2 linked regions of the Homo sapiens genome follow. The protein of the gene in region 2 interacts with the protein of the main gene of each other region in a biochemical or structural test. Each region holds a gene or a part of one and is shown on either strand. Other genes may lie near its edges. The genes, in order: KCND2 and KCNE4.

Region 1 (5,883 bases), on a different chromosome or scaffold from region 2:
ATATTGAACTTTTTAATGCAAGATTGATACCTAATAAATCAAAGGCTATAAATGAAAATAATTAACAAGAAAAGATAGAGACTATCCACCAAGAGGACCATATATATCACCAGTTAAAATCAGTCTTTCTACTAAATAATTTCCTTTGTGTCTTTTTCCTTCTTCTATAAACTCTTAACATTTTCTTGCTTTTTAGCCCTTTCAAGATATTAAGAGAAACCATTAGTGGTTGCATATTAAAAATGAATGAAAATCTATGTATATGTGTATGAACAAATTTATATCTACATATACACATACATGCACACAAATGGCTAGGCAAATAAATCACCCCGCTTTCCTAGGTAGAATAAAGCCTTTGATTAAGAATTTATTTAAGTTCTGACCAAAACCATTACCCCTGAGCTTCTCTGCTTAATGCAAGTAGTGGTGTTTAAGAAGTATATAAGGTTCAGGGACTGGCTTTCCTTAATTGATACTATCTTTTCTGTTAAAGTCCCTGCCTTAATTCCCATTACTAGCAAAAGCTACTGTCTCCACCCATTCAGATGAGATTTAAGCATTACTTTCAATTGCTGTGTCCTTTGAGTTGTATGTCTCACAAGGTCCTCCAACATGTGTATTATGAGTGTGGCATATCCTAATTTTGGGAAAGGAATGAAATCTAAGAAAATAGGGCAACAGTCAACATTTTGTCCTGTTCAAGCATGCACATGTTTTATTTAAGTATTCTCCAAAGGTCTATTTTTTTCCAGCATAATGCAGATATTATGCTATCCTTTGAAATAAGATATATGAATTTCAAACAAAATTGTCAAAAACAATGACCTTAGTTACTCCATATGGTACACAGAAATAATTACATTTCACTTACAATACAGATGCACTTAACACAGTCATCAATAGTCATTCACCACCAACACGGTATATTTTTAAATCACCTAAAACATCAAAAAGTTTTTTTTCTTTTCCAAAAGCCTAATAAAATTAATAATTTTGGGTAAGTGATAAATCAAAAGAGGAGGCAGAATTGTCAATTGAAATAACCTAACTGCATTTTCTTGTATGTAATATTAAGAACATGAAAATAGAACTTCTCATTGGGAATCAAAAGACATAGTAATTCTGATTATGGTTTCCTTAGTCTACTTTTTAGAAGGTTTTCAATAAATGCCATCAGATAAGTTTCACTAGACATTGCTCTAGAAGCATAAACTGACATGAGGCAGGTGTTAATATAATTGTTAATATTTGTACTGCTGGAAAATTAGTAACTTTTTAAAAGATGTACTAGGAATGAAGCCAGTTCTTCCCAAGAGATAGTTGAGTTTATCTTACTTTCACTCAGCAAATGTTTATTAAGATCTAATATGTGCATAGCACTGTTCTAGAAACTATTCTAGAAATGGGAAGCAAGAATTTCTGGCTTTACTAGAAAATGGTTGGATTAATCCCTTTTTATGATTAAATATCATAAGCATTTAAAAATCTCATCTCTGACAGAGGGATAATTATTAGCTCTTTCCATGTACAGAAGCTAAGCTTTATTCCTTACAGTGGTGGCTTGGAATGAATAAAAACTTTGCATTTGACATTAAACTTTTTTACACTGTCATGTGCAGACATGTCTGCTGAAATATTTTAAGGGTGAAAAGTTATAAAGACTTTTCACTTAAATGTACAGAGATCAACTTTGCATCATCAAACTCCTGTTCTCCTGATTTATTGGAGAAAATTGTACCTTGCAATACACAGGAACCTTTCTGAGATAAATTTGTGCTGCCTTCCTGAATGGCGTAGAAAGCATGCTTTCATCAAATATTGCTAAATAAAGCACTCCAGTGTATCTCTACATTTCAATCCACATTAGTTATTCTCAAAATGTATTCAAGATCTAAAGCAAAATAAATAATGCATCAAGTAAGATTCTGAGATGATTGATCCTGTGATATTAGTCCCAGTCAATTCTGTTCATAAAATACATAGTGATATATCCAGTATCTGGGCTTTTCCATAAACAACAAAGACGTTAGAGATAATTTATATGGGTCAACTCCTTTTTTTCTAGTTTTCGACAAGGGGATTGATGACAAGCTACTTACAAGATAATTTTTTTTGGAAATACAAAAGTAGGAAAGTCACTTGAACTACAGTAAACAGTAGTCTTGTTGATGATGATAAACCCAATAGAGAGGTGCTATAGAAATACAAGAACAGATAATGCACTGTGTCACAGGAATACAGTGGACCAAAAAATATTACTGAAAAACATTTATGGCACAATAGTTTTGGATTAAAAAGTTACCTAAAACCTGGCCACACCAGAAGTTTTTCTACGAATGTGGCTCTTACCGTATCTATAAGGATCTGGAAAGTACAACAACAAAAAAATCCTGATTCCTGATACAACAGTTGTACAACAAATTATTGCAGTTGTAACAGTATCTAGGTGCAAAGTTAAACGATAATGAATACTGAACTATCTGAACACTTTAGATTTACTAATGAGCATCCCCATGAGAAATACTGCAGGTCTAAAAGGAGTTTATTTGCACAGCCCACCATGGAACATGAACACTCAGCTTGTTGTAAGTGCACAGAAATTACCCCTTTCTACAATTATAGTTTATCATGCCTATTCTGAAGACAACATAAGGAAACTGAGATCACTGCTTCAAAGAATTCTAGCATGCATTATGATGGTTTCCTTCAGTCAATACAAATATGTTGTGTGAGTTTTTTTTTCATATGTAATAATCTTCATCATAGCCAATGTTCATGGTTTTAACAGGAAAAAATTTTATCAAAATGTTTTCCATATTTTTTTTGTTTTGCATTCAACTGGAACATTATGTTCAACGATTTATGTTATTTATTTTATTAAAAAAGAGTTCTGATCATAAGAAGCATCAGTAGGCGGCATTTCATTGTGCTCATTCACAAAGTCAAAGGGCCACAGAATATTACTCTGTATAACAGGTCAAACTGTCTAGAAATGCCATTTGGTGGTTTTATTCACATCCTTAAGATTGGAAGCTTTGTGTTTCACTACCAACCTTCTTTCTTTGCTGCATTAATCTGCAGAATATTTATTGTTTCTTCTTTCTTCTATGTTGAGATTCTTTTCACAGCCAGGGCTCGAATTCTCTTAGACCTTATTCCAATTGTCTTACAAAGCAGAAACTCTGACAATATTTCCTCCTGAGTACTCAGGGGATTCTGGCCTATCGTCTCCTTCTGGTGTGGTTACTGGAGGTGTTGGGATGCTTATTATTGCTGTAGTCACATAAGGTTGTTCACAGTTTAGTTTAACACACTCTTCCATTTTGGCATTTAAACTGGATCGGCTGATAGAAAAAAAAATATTTAGGAAAGTAAGTTGTTTACTTAAAATGTTTTTCATACAACTGAAGAATATGTGTTGTAATGCTTATAAAAATATTTTAATTGTCTAAGGAAAGTTATTATAATTAAAAATATGAAACACCAAATCTTAATCTATGTTAAAGATGAACATAGTAATTAACATTAAATAAATTTCTAAAAGACAGTTTGACTTGGTTCCATCAAGTATTTATCAAACTAAATGTATTATAAAAAAATGTAAGAAAGAAAGAGCTTCAAGTAAGATTTGGACAGCCTGGGCTGAGCAAAGAAGTTTTATTTAAGACAGACCTCTGAGAGGTTTGAGAAACCACTATGAAAGAGCCATATCACATTGATTTCTTAATTCCTTTGACCACAGAATATTTTTATTTTCATGTCTTTTTGGGATATATAATGCCCTCAAACCTCTGAACTTAATGATGATCACATATTACAGAAATAAAAAAATTATCTATTACTATCTAACACTTCAAGCTCCCAAATGGTATTATTGGATGAATTGTATACTCTATGTGGGGAAGGGGATAAAAGGGAAATGAGAGAGAAGGATATACACAGAAGCTTGAAACTGATTATTTTATTTTCATGGAAAACATAATTAAGATGTTTATGTCCTAAGATTTTCTTGCTAGATAATTTTCCATTGTCGACTTCACTTTATAAAGGATATAAAACTGCAAAGCTAAAATATCTTGAAGATAGAAGTCTTATGGCTCCTAATTTTAATTTTCTAGTCCCAGAGACATCCAATTTATGTAAATCAACATCACCTGAATTCAGAATCTCATCCAGATTTCAACAAAGACTTCTGAATGCCAACAAAGAAGAGGACTGAATTTACAGACTCTCACTCTAACAATATATGCTGTTCAATTTGAAAACAGAATAAAATTATTTTGGCAGAAACTGATTTTTAATGACATATATTGTTTAAATGTACAACTTTTTATTTTTACACATTTGTGGTAAAAACAGTGAATAAGGAAAAGCAAAGGAAATATATCAATATGGAAGTTTTACTTAATTTGTTCATAAACTAACCAGAGGCAAACAATTTTAGTACTTCACTTATTTTTTGTATTATGTTGATTTTGTGTTTGATATGGCCAAAAATACCTTTCTGATCAAAATTATATATTGATAGAAATGACTTATGTAGGCAAAGTTTTCATTTTTACTGTTACAGACAGTGTGTTTGTATATTTTTACATGCTGTTCAATAATTTTTAGCCATGTTGATCTCAATTTCATTTGACTCTTTTAGTAGTGTCCACCATCATTTCAGACTATTGAATATATAAGAGACTCCTGAGTATAAAAGTCCTTGCCCAAATAAGAAAAGGTTGTGGAACAGAAGAGAGAAAAACACATTTGTGTGCACTCAATCATCTCTTCTTCTTTCGACTCTTTTAATACTGATATAACCACTATTTTTAACCCTTAATGGATATGCAAGCAGAACCATTTTCCTACTTGTTACGCTACCATTTTTGTCTCTTCCTGAACCATAGGAGCTAGGGATTTAGATGCCATGTAAGTGACAACATGAGTGCAGAAGACACACCCTGGGAACCAGCACAGGTGTGTAGACAACACAGATTAATCTCAGGTACCTGTTAGACAGAGGTGTTCTCTCCACACATCTGATCTGAATCGTGCTGAGTTCTTGTATACTACCTTGATGGCTTCCTGATACATTGGCATTTGGGATGCGAAAAGTTTTTTTGTGTCGTCGTGAACAGCAGGTGCTGGTGACTCCTTGTTGTGAAGACAGTGAAGGACTGTGACTTGAAGGACGATTAACAGTTGCAACTTCCATGCAGCTTTCTTCAAAGACTTGTTCGTCCACAAACTCGTGATTCTGTTCCACAGTTGTAAGTAAATGAAGAAACAGAGAAGCACATTTTTAAAAACGAAATACATAGCTTTATTTTTAAAGCTCAAATCTGCCCAAGTATAGTTAGACTTGATACAATGGTTAAATAAAACCATTTTCATAAAGATTGACATCAAAACCACTTCTTTTTGGCATTTATGTGGAACTATCTCTGTAGTTAAACCTAGAGATTGACATCTGTAGGCTGATTTAGTGTCCCTTTATAGACTAACTTTATCTTGAAATATCATTTATTTATTTAAACATAAAATCTGGAAGGTATATGATAAGGAAAAAAAAAACCTAAAAAATGCATATAGATAAAACCCACAGGGAAATTAGAAATTCCCACTGACTTTATTTTTTAAAAAGGTTGAAGTTATGGAAAATAGATTATTTTAATAGGATGCCCCAAGTTAGATTGTCTGTTATATATTAGCAAATCTTTTCACATGGGAGTGAAAACATTTCTAAATTAGAAAATGAGACCCCTAAGACACTATCCATTTCTTTATATGTTCCTCTAAAAATGCCCAGTACAGAAAAATATGACTTATTCGTTACATAAGTAAAATATAATTGTCTGCCGAATGTGTCACTCTGTGTTCGACCCAGAAGGG
Region 2 (7,208 bases):
CTCGTGAGACTCAGTCACTATCATGAGAGCAGCATGGGGGAAACAGCCCCCATGATTCAATTACCTCCACCTGGTCCCACCTTTGACACGTGAGGATTACAATTCGAGGTGAGATTTGGGTGGGGACACAGAGCCAAACCATATCAGGCTGTATATGTAGGCAGAGAAACTACTGTACTATGGACAACATAGGTATACGGTAAGAGTATTACTGCTTCACTGATAACTTCTAGAACATGCTGAGGTTGGTGCAGCCTCCAGTACTTAAAATAATATGAATTCAGAAAAAGACAACTTGTAGTTCCACGTGTGTATTTATGTGTGAGTATCTAGTTATGTCAGAATTCACATTTTTTTTAAAAAAAAAGTTTTATGAAGACTCAAAAGAAGTTGGAAAAATGTCCATCTTTCACTTCCTACTCTTTCTCAGTTTCTTTTTGTTTTCCATTCAGTGAGACAAAAGGTAGTGGAAAAAGAATGGGTTTTGGAGTTGCATAGATCTGGGGTCAAGTACTGACTGTACTGCTAGTGATTTGACCTGGAGCAACTTTGCCTCTTTGACTCTTTGACTTTCAGTTTCCTTATCTATGAAATGGTTGTAATAATACCTGACCTCACAGGACTTATGTGTACTTGGTATATGATAGACACTAAGCTAGATTTGAACTGCAGTGTATCTTAGACTCATTTAAAATACAAGTTTAAAATGGATTTATCAAAACAGAATAATATCGATGCAAAGATAGACAGATAGATCAAAGGAACAGAATGAAGAGTTAAGAAATAGACCTGCTTATATAAGGTTAATTGATTTTCAACAAAGTTTCCAAGATAATTTTAAATAGGAAAAGGAGTCTTTTCAACAAATGATGCTGGAGCAATTGGACATCCATAAGCAAAACAAAAACAAACAACCCCTCCCCAAAATCCTTGACCTATATCTTACATTTTAGACTAAAATTAACTTGAAATGTATCATAGACCTAAATGTAAGGCTGAAACCATAAAACTTCTAGAAGCAAAACAGGAGAAAATCCTCATGACTGGGTTAAGCAAATATTTCTTTGATAGGATTCAAACAGCACAACCAAAAACATTTAAAATAAATTGGACTTCATCAGAATTAGATATGTTTGCTCCTGAAAAGACACTGTTCAGGAAATGGAAATGCTAGCCGAAATTGATTTATTTCTTTAACATTGCTGTCTCCTAAAACTGAGGCCCGGGGTAGATATAATTAATAATTCTTGTGCAGTCCCATCCTCTCCCGACAGAGTGCACTTTCTAGATGTACCCTCTCTCCCTCATTCTTTATGCCATTATTCAGTGCCATCATTCTCGCAATCCCTGTCATGAGTGAGGGCTGGGAAGAAGATTGAGCTATGCATTTTGAAGTTGGAATTCCCTTCTCTTAAATTCCATTCCTGGGAGTGACAGACAGGGGAAGGAGCAGTGATAAAAAGTCTGGAGTTAAAAGTCTGGAGATGGGCACACACATGACAGGAGGCAACCTGAAGCCCTTGGGAGCAACAGCGTACTCCTAACAATGACAACTAAACACAGGCACTGAGCATGTGCATTTGGCCAGACATGGTGCTTTCTTTGCATCATTTCATTGAACTATTTTATTCTGTTCTGTTCTATTCTATTCTATTCTATTCTATTCTATTCTATTTATTTAGAGATCTCGCTCTGTCACCCAGGCTGGAGTGTAGTGGCATGTTCAGACCTCATTGCAGCCTTGAACTCCTGGTCTCGAGTGATCCTCCCACCCCAGCCTCCCAAGTAGCTGGGACTACAGGCACTCGCCACCAGGCCTAGTTAATTTTTGTATTTTTTTGTAGAGATGGGGTCTCACTGTGTTGCCCACGCTGGTCTCAAACACCTGGGTTCAAGTGATTCATCCACCTCAGCCTCTTCAAGCATTGGGATTACTGAACTAAGACACTGCAGTTGGCCTCGTTTAACTCTAGTAGAAATATCCATGCAGGAAGTATGTGGGAATCGGGGCAGCAGGGACTCCAAGCAGGCACCCCAGAATTTCTTCTGGGCTGTTCCTTCCCTGACTCCTGCAATTAGTCCTGCTTTTCCTTTGGCTCTGACTTGCTTCGTCCTTTGGAATTCATTCTCGATGTTTCCCCACACTCATCTCTTTTCTTGGTTGTATTCCCTTGGGACTGTTGGCTCAGGTTTGGGGATTTATTATGTTTAAAACTTCAGCCTCTGTTTGGCTTCCTGGCACCAGGCTTTGTACTTCCTGCTCCTTGAATCTGGTAACTCCTATCCCCACCTCCTTTCTGCCTACTCAAAGCTTCCAGTCTTTGGTGTTGGACAATCCCTGGATGATGACCAATCTCGTATGTCCTAAGGTATACAATAAAAAATACCAGGGTCAACAATCAACAGGCATCTCTTTCTTGGGCCCATCTTGTTCTAGTGTCCCAGACATTCCAGTGTAGGCTTAGATATAGATGGAAGTGTTCTAGTGTTTATGATGGACACCTGTTGAAAAGACCAAGTCTACCATGGCTGAGGTAGCTATGGAGGGTTTTACGTATTAACACAATGGTGAGGGTATCTTTACTGGTGTGAGCACAGTTCCACTGTATGGATGATCGTGATGCTGGAGTGGTCGATGGTTGGTACCTCCAGTGCCAGCTGGGGATTTATGGATGAACACAGGTGAGTAGTCAAGTGGGAAAAATGGCAGCATTCAGTTCATCTTCCTATTCTTCCTCCAGGTGTCTTCTTAGAATCAGGATCAGGTGCAAACCCAGGGGGGTTCCTGTAGCAGCAGTGAAAATTCCAGTGCCTAAGCTATATATGTTCAAGCAGGTCAGGTGGATGTCGCATGCGTCAGTTTGACTACAGCAGAACCATGAGAGATGTTTCCTTTAGAGTTGGCCCACAAGACAGTCTGGCTGCAATCCACAGGCCACAGACAACTGGAGGGAGTGGATCTCTCCCAGTTTCCTTCCACTTAGCATGAAAGCCTCAGAATAAGCAGCCCAGGGAGCAGAGAGACTGACATTAAAGCCTGCAATTCCTCTTCCAATTTTGATCACAGCAGCCATTTAAACACAGGGTCTACCGAGGTTTAAAAAACTTGAACTGTGCTTAGTTGCACTCTGAAATAGTCCTGCTCCTCCCCTGACCTACGAGAGACAGCAAAGAGACGTGTCAATAGCCTCCGCATGAGGCTTCAGAGGAGCAGCTGTGTATGGCAGGACGGAACAAAACCTGCCCATAGTATCTTTTACGACAACATGTTTCCACTTAATGCAGACCACTGAAAAGAATGTGGGAGCTTTTAAAAAAAAATTATTATAAACATAGGTTTGTGACCTTGATGTGGAAGGCAGCTAGAATCTCTGCTTTTAGAGGGCTAAGCAACACCAGGCAGCCTTCAATCTTAGAAGGGTTAAGCTGAAAGGGTCTCAAAAGGTCACGTGGTTTATATAATCCTACCTGCAGAAGACCCCCCCCCCCGCCAGGCACAACGATTTTACAGACGAGGAATGTGAGGTGCGGAGAGGTTAAGGAAGGATTTATCTTATTTGCATAAGGAGTGGAAGAACTGAAACCGAAGCCCCAGTTCCTTGACTGTAAATCCCGCACTTGCTTCCAACTGTCTTTCATCCAGATTATGGGATTCAGCTGCCTCTGAAAACCTGTAGCCCAATAATGGTTATTCCCCAGGAGCCGCGCGAAGCATGAGCTAATTTTCAGTGAGCGCGGACTTTGGGGTAACGGTTCCAGCACAGCACATCCCTTTCTCCTCTTTTCACTCATCGTCACCGCTACCTGAAAACCCTGGCCGGGTGCTGGGGCTTGAGGAGCAGTTCCCACTTCCCAGTCTTTTTCACTTTTCACAGCTGCAAAGTTCAGGGAGTTGAACTGCAGTGCTTTCAGTTCACTGCTCACTCTGCCACGATCAATCTCTGTTGTAAATTTTCCTCCCAGAGCACGTGACGATGCACTTCTTGACTATATATCCCAACTGCAGCAGCGGAGTTGTCAGAGCGCAGAGCCGGACAGAGCAGAAGAACCCTCTTGGACTGGACGATTTGGGAATTCAAAACTTGGGACAAACTGTCAGCCTTGGTAAGTCAGCAAGGCTACACTTTGCTTTCAGAAACATTTGAAAGAGGGACATTTTTGCCAATTAATAGATGAATTTTTTTCCTTTATTTTCTTCCTGCTTTTCTTTGTTCTAAGGAAACATTGTTTTGAATTTAAAATAGTTTGGTTTTGGAAACACAATGTAAACTTTGTTTCTGCTCAGTTAAAATACGTTTCCCAGTTTTAAAGATACTATTTACTGTATGCTCCTGTCTTACATTGATTTTTTTTTTAATCAAAGTAATACTGCTCACTACAAACAGGACAAATGTGTACACTAAAAAAAAAAAAAAAAGTCCTTCTTACTTTTCCCAGTGAACCTTCCCGGGCTTCTCTCCCGTGCACTCCAAGCCCTCATAGCTCACTCTTGTCAGCTGTTTGGCGAACCCTCTTATGCTATTTCTTTCATGCACTTTTAAGCTTTTTTGGTATTGCAGTTCCACAAACCTCGTGCTCCCCCACCTCCCTGTGCCCAGGACCTGGGGGAGAGTTCTAACCTGCGGCTTTTTCCCCAGCCCCTGCTGTGGAGGCAGCCTCAATGCTGAAAATGGAGCCTCTGAACAGCACGCACCCCGGCACCGCCGCCTCCAGCAGCCCCCTGGAGTCCCGTGCGGCCGGCGGCGGCAGCGGCAATGGCAACGAGTACTTCTACATTCTGGTTGTCATGTCCTTCTACGGCATTTTCTTGATCGGAATCATGCTGGGCTACATGAAATCCAAGAGGCGGGAGAAGAAGTCCAGCCTCCTGCTGCTGTACAAAGACGAGGAGCGGCTCTGGGGGGAGGCCATGAAGCCGCTGCCTGTGGTGTCGGGCCTGAGGTCGGTGCAGGTGCCCCTGATGCTGAACATGCTGCAGGAGAGCGTGGCGCCCGCGCTGTCCTGCACCCTCTGTTCCATGGAAGGGGACAGCGTGAGCTCCGAGTCCTCCTCCCCGGACGTGCACCTCACCATTCAGGAGGAGGGGGCAGACGATGAGCTGGAGGAGACCTCGGAGACGCCCCTCAACGAGAGCAGCGAAGGGTCCTCGGAGAACATCCATCAGAATTCCTAGCACCCCCGGGACCCCTGCCGGTGGCTCCATCAGCCAGCAACCTTAGAGAGAGGAAAGACAGTTTTCAAGTGTCTGGTTTCACTTTCACAGTGCGGCTGCCACTTTGAAGAGACCCTTGGTAAACCCCTGATTCGGGGTGGGGTGGGGGACTAGGCTCAGCCGGAACCAGCACCTCCAAGGAGTCCGGGAGGTGCCTGTGGTTTGCACCCACCACTGAAAAAGCCGCGGAGATGCGCAGCGCGTACACTGACTTTGGGGCCTGGGTGTTGGGGTTCTGATCAGAATTTGGCGGGATGATATGTTTGCCATTTTCTCACTGGATGCCCTGGGTAGCTCCTGCAGGGTCTGCCTGTTCCCAGGGCTGCCGAATGCTTAGGACACGCTGAGAGACTAGTTGTGATTTGCTATTTTGCCTAGAGCTTTGTCCTTCTAGATCTGATTGGCTGTAAGTATCTCTACTGTGTACCTGTGGCATTCCTTCACAGTGGGTTACAAGCTTCTTTTGGATTAGAGGGGGATTTTTGATGGGAGAAAGCTGGAGATCTGAACCCAGCCCATTTGCACACTATAAGAAAAAAAAGTAACTTTTAAACCTGTTAACATTGGCCGGGGTTATAAGAGATGATCTTCTATTTTGACCTTTTGTCTAACTTATGACCTTGAACTCTGACCTGTGACCATGCAGCATCACATGATGGCATGACGTTCTTTGGATCAGAAGAGCTTCCCCAGAATCTAACCTGCACTCCCGATGGTGGTTCAGGAGACTCTTCCTGATCTTTCTAGAAGGGGTAAAGTGGGGTTGAACAAGGCCAAGCCGTTAGCTCTGCTGCTGCTCAGTTTCCCAGCCTAGTTTTCTGAGCTGGGAGAGGACATAATGTGGTATTTCGTCACGTAGCTGAGACCTAGAAGGGCATACTCAGGCGGAGATTGCACAAAGCTGGGCTCCAAGTTCTGTGCTTCCTGATCCCGAGCCCTGACACTCATTTGCTGTGTGGTCCCGGGCATGTCATCAAGAAGCTCGCTGTCTGCATGAGGCTCCCGACGATCTCCATCCCCAGGGGGTTGGGAGGATGTCTTTAGATTTTAGGACTCTGTGATAAATATTCCACAGCCTGGTGTGAGGAAGCTTGGACCAAATGCTTCCCCTTTGGCCGGTTAGTCTGAACAAGGATCTGCTGATTTAAAGGAGCAGTTGGAGATTCAGAACACATATAACTGGGGAATTCAGGGCAAGCTACCAACCCAGCCCTGCTGTAGTTTTCCCAGGACTGAAGGAAAGAGGCAGACACCACATTCTCCTCTGCAAAGTTCTCTGGAGAATGTGTGATGTTAACACTCCCAGCTAAGGGAAAGCAAAGTCTAAAGGAAAACACACAGGAATGCTTCCAATGTCTCCAAGTATTCCTGTGGTCAACAGTTTCGCAGATCCGTTAGGCCCTTAAAGACAAGGAGGAAGTAAAAGGTCAAATTTAAATCTATTTAAAAAAACTTTTAAAAAAATTATTTATTTATTATTATTTTTTATTTTTAAGACAGAATCTCGCTCTGTTGCCCAGGCTGGAGTGCAGTGGTGCAATCTTGGCTCACTGCAACCTCCACCTCCTGGGTTTCAGCGATTCTCCTGCCTCAGCCTCCTGAGTAGCTGGGATTACAGGCGCCTGCCACCACGCCCAGCTAATTTTTTGATTTTTAGTAGAGATGGGGTTTCGCCATTTTGGCCAGGCTGGTCTCAAACTCCTGGCCTTAAATGATCCTCCCACCTCGGCCTCCCAAAGTGCTGGGATTACAGGCATGAGCCACTGCACCCGGCCACTTTTTTTTTTTTTAAAGAAAAATGCTCTGCATGGATTGGAGACACAGCAATAACTACTGTTGCCATGGAAGGGTTAACAGTGTAGGAGCTGGTTTATCAGTCCGCTTTGACATACAGCTAAAGGAAATTTATGTTTGGGGGAAAAAGGCCCTCTGTTCACTTTAAAATTCAGTGTGGACTTATGCCAAAGGGGGCTGTTTAAGTTGAAAGAAGCCAAGT

The links.
Region 1: the proteins of KCNE4 (region 2) and KCND2 form a complex in vitro, tested with the Homo sapiens proteins (one study listed by BioGRID).

What each region holds. Positions count from the first base shown.
Region 1 is NC_000007.14:120,745,145-120,751,027, reverse strand, and holds the end of KCND2 (A-type voltage-gated potassium channel KCND2), read right to left. Parts: intron 5,249-5,883; coding exon 5,001-5,248; intron 3,348-5,000; coding exon 3,170-3,347; 3' UTR 691-3,169; downstream 1-690. UniProt on the Homo sapiens protein: Voltage-gated potassium channel that mediates transmembrane potassium transport in excitable membranes, primarily in the brain. Mediates the major part of the dendritic A-type current I(SA) in brain neurons.
Region 2 is NC_000002.12:223,048,171-223,055,378, forward strand, and holds the start of KCNE4 (potassium voltage-gated channel subfamily E member 4), read left to right. Parts: upstream 1-4,019; 5' UTR 4,020-4,104; intron 4,105-4,637; 5' UTR 4,638-4,660; coding exon 4,661-5,173; 3' UTR 5,174-7,208. UniProt on the Homo sapiens protein: Ancillary protein that functions as a regulatory subunit of the voltage-gated potassium (Kv) channel complex composed of pore-forming and potassium-conducting alpha subunits and of regulatory beta subunits.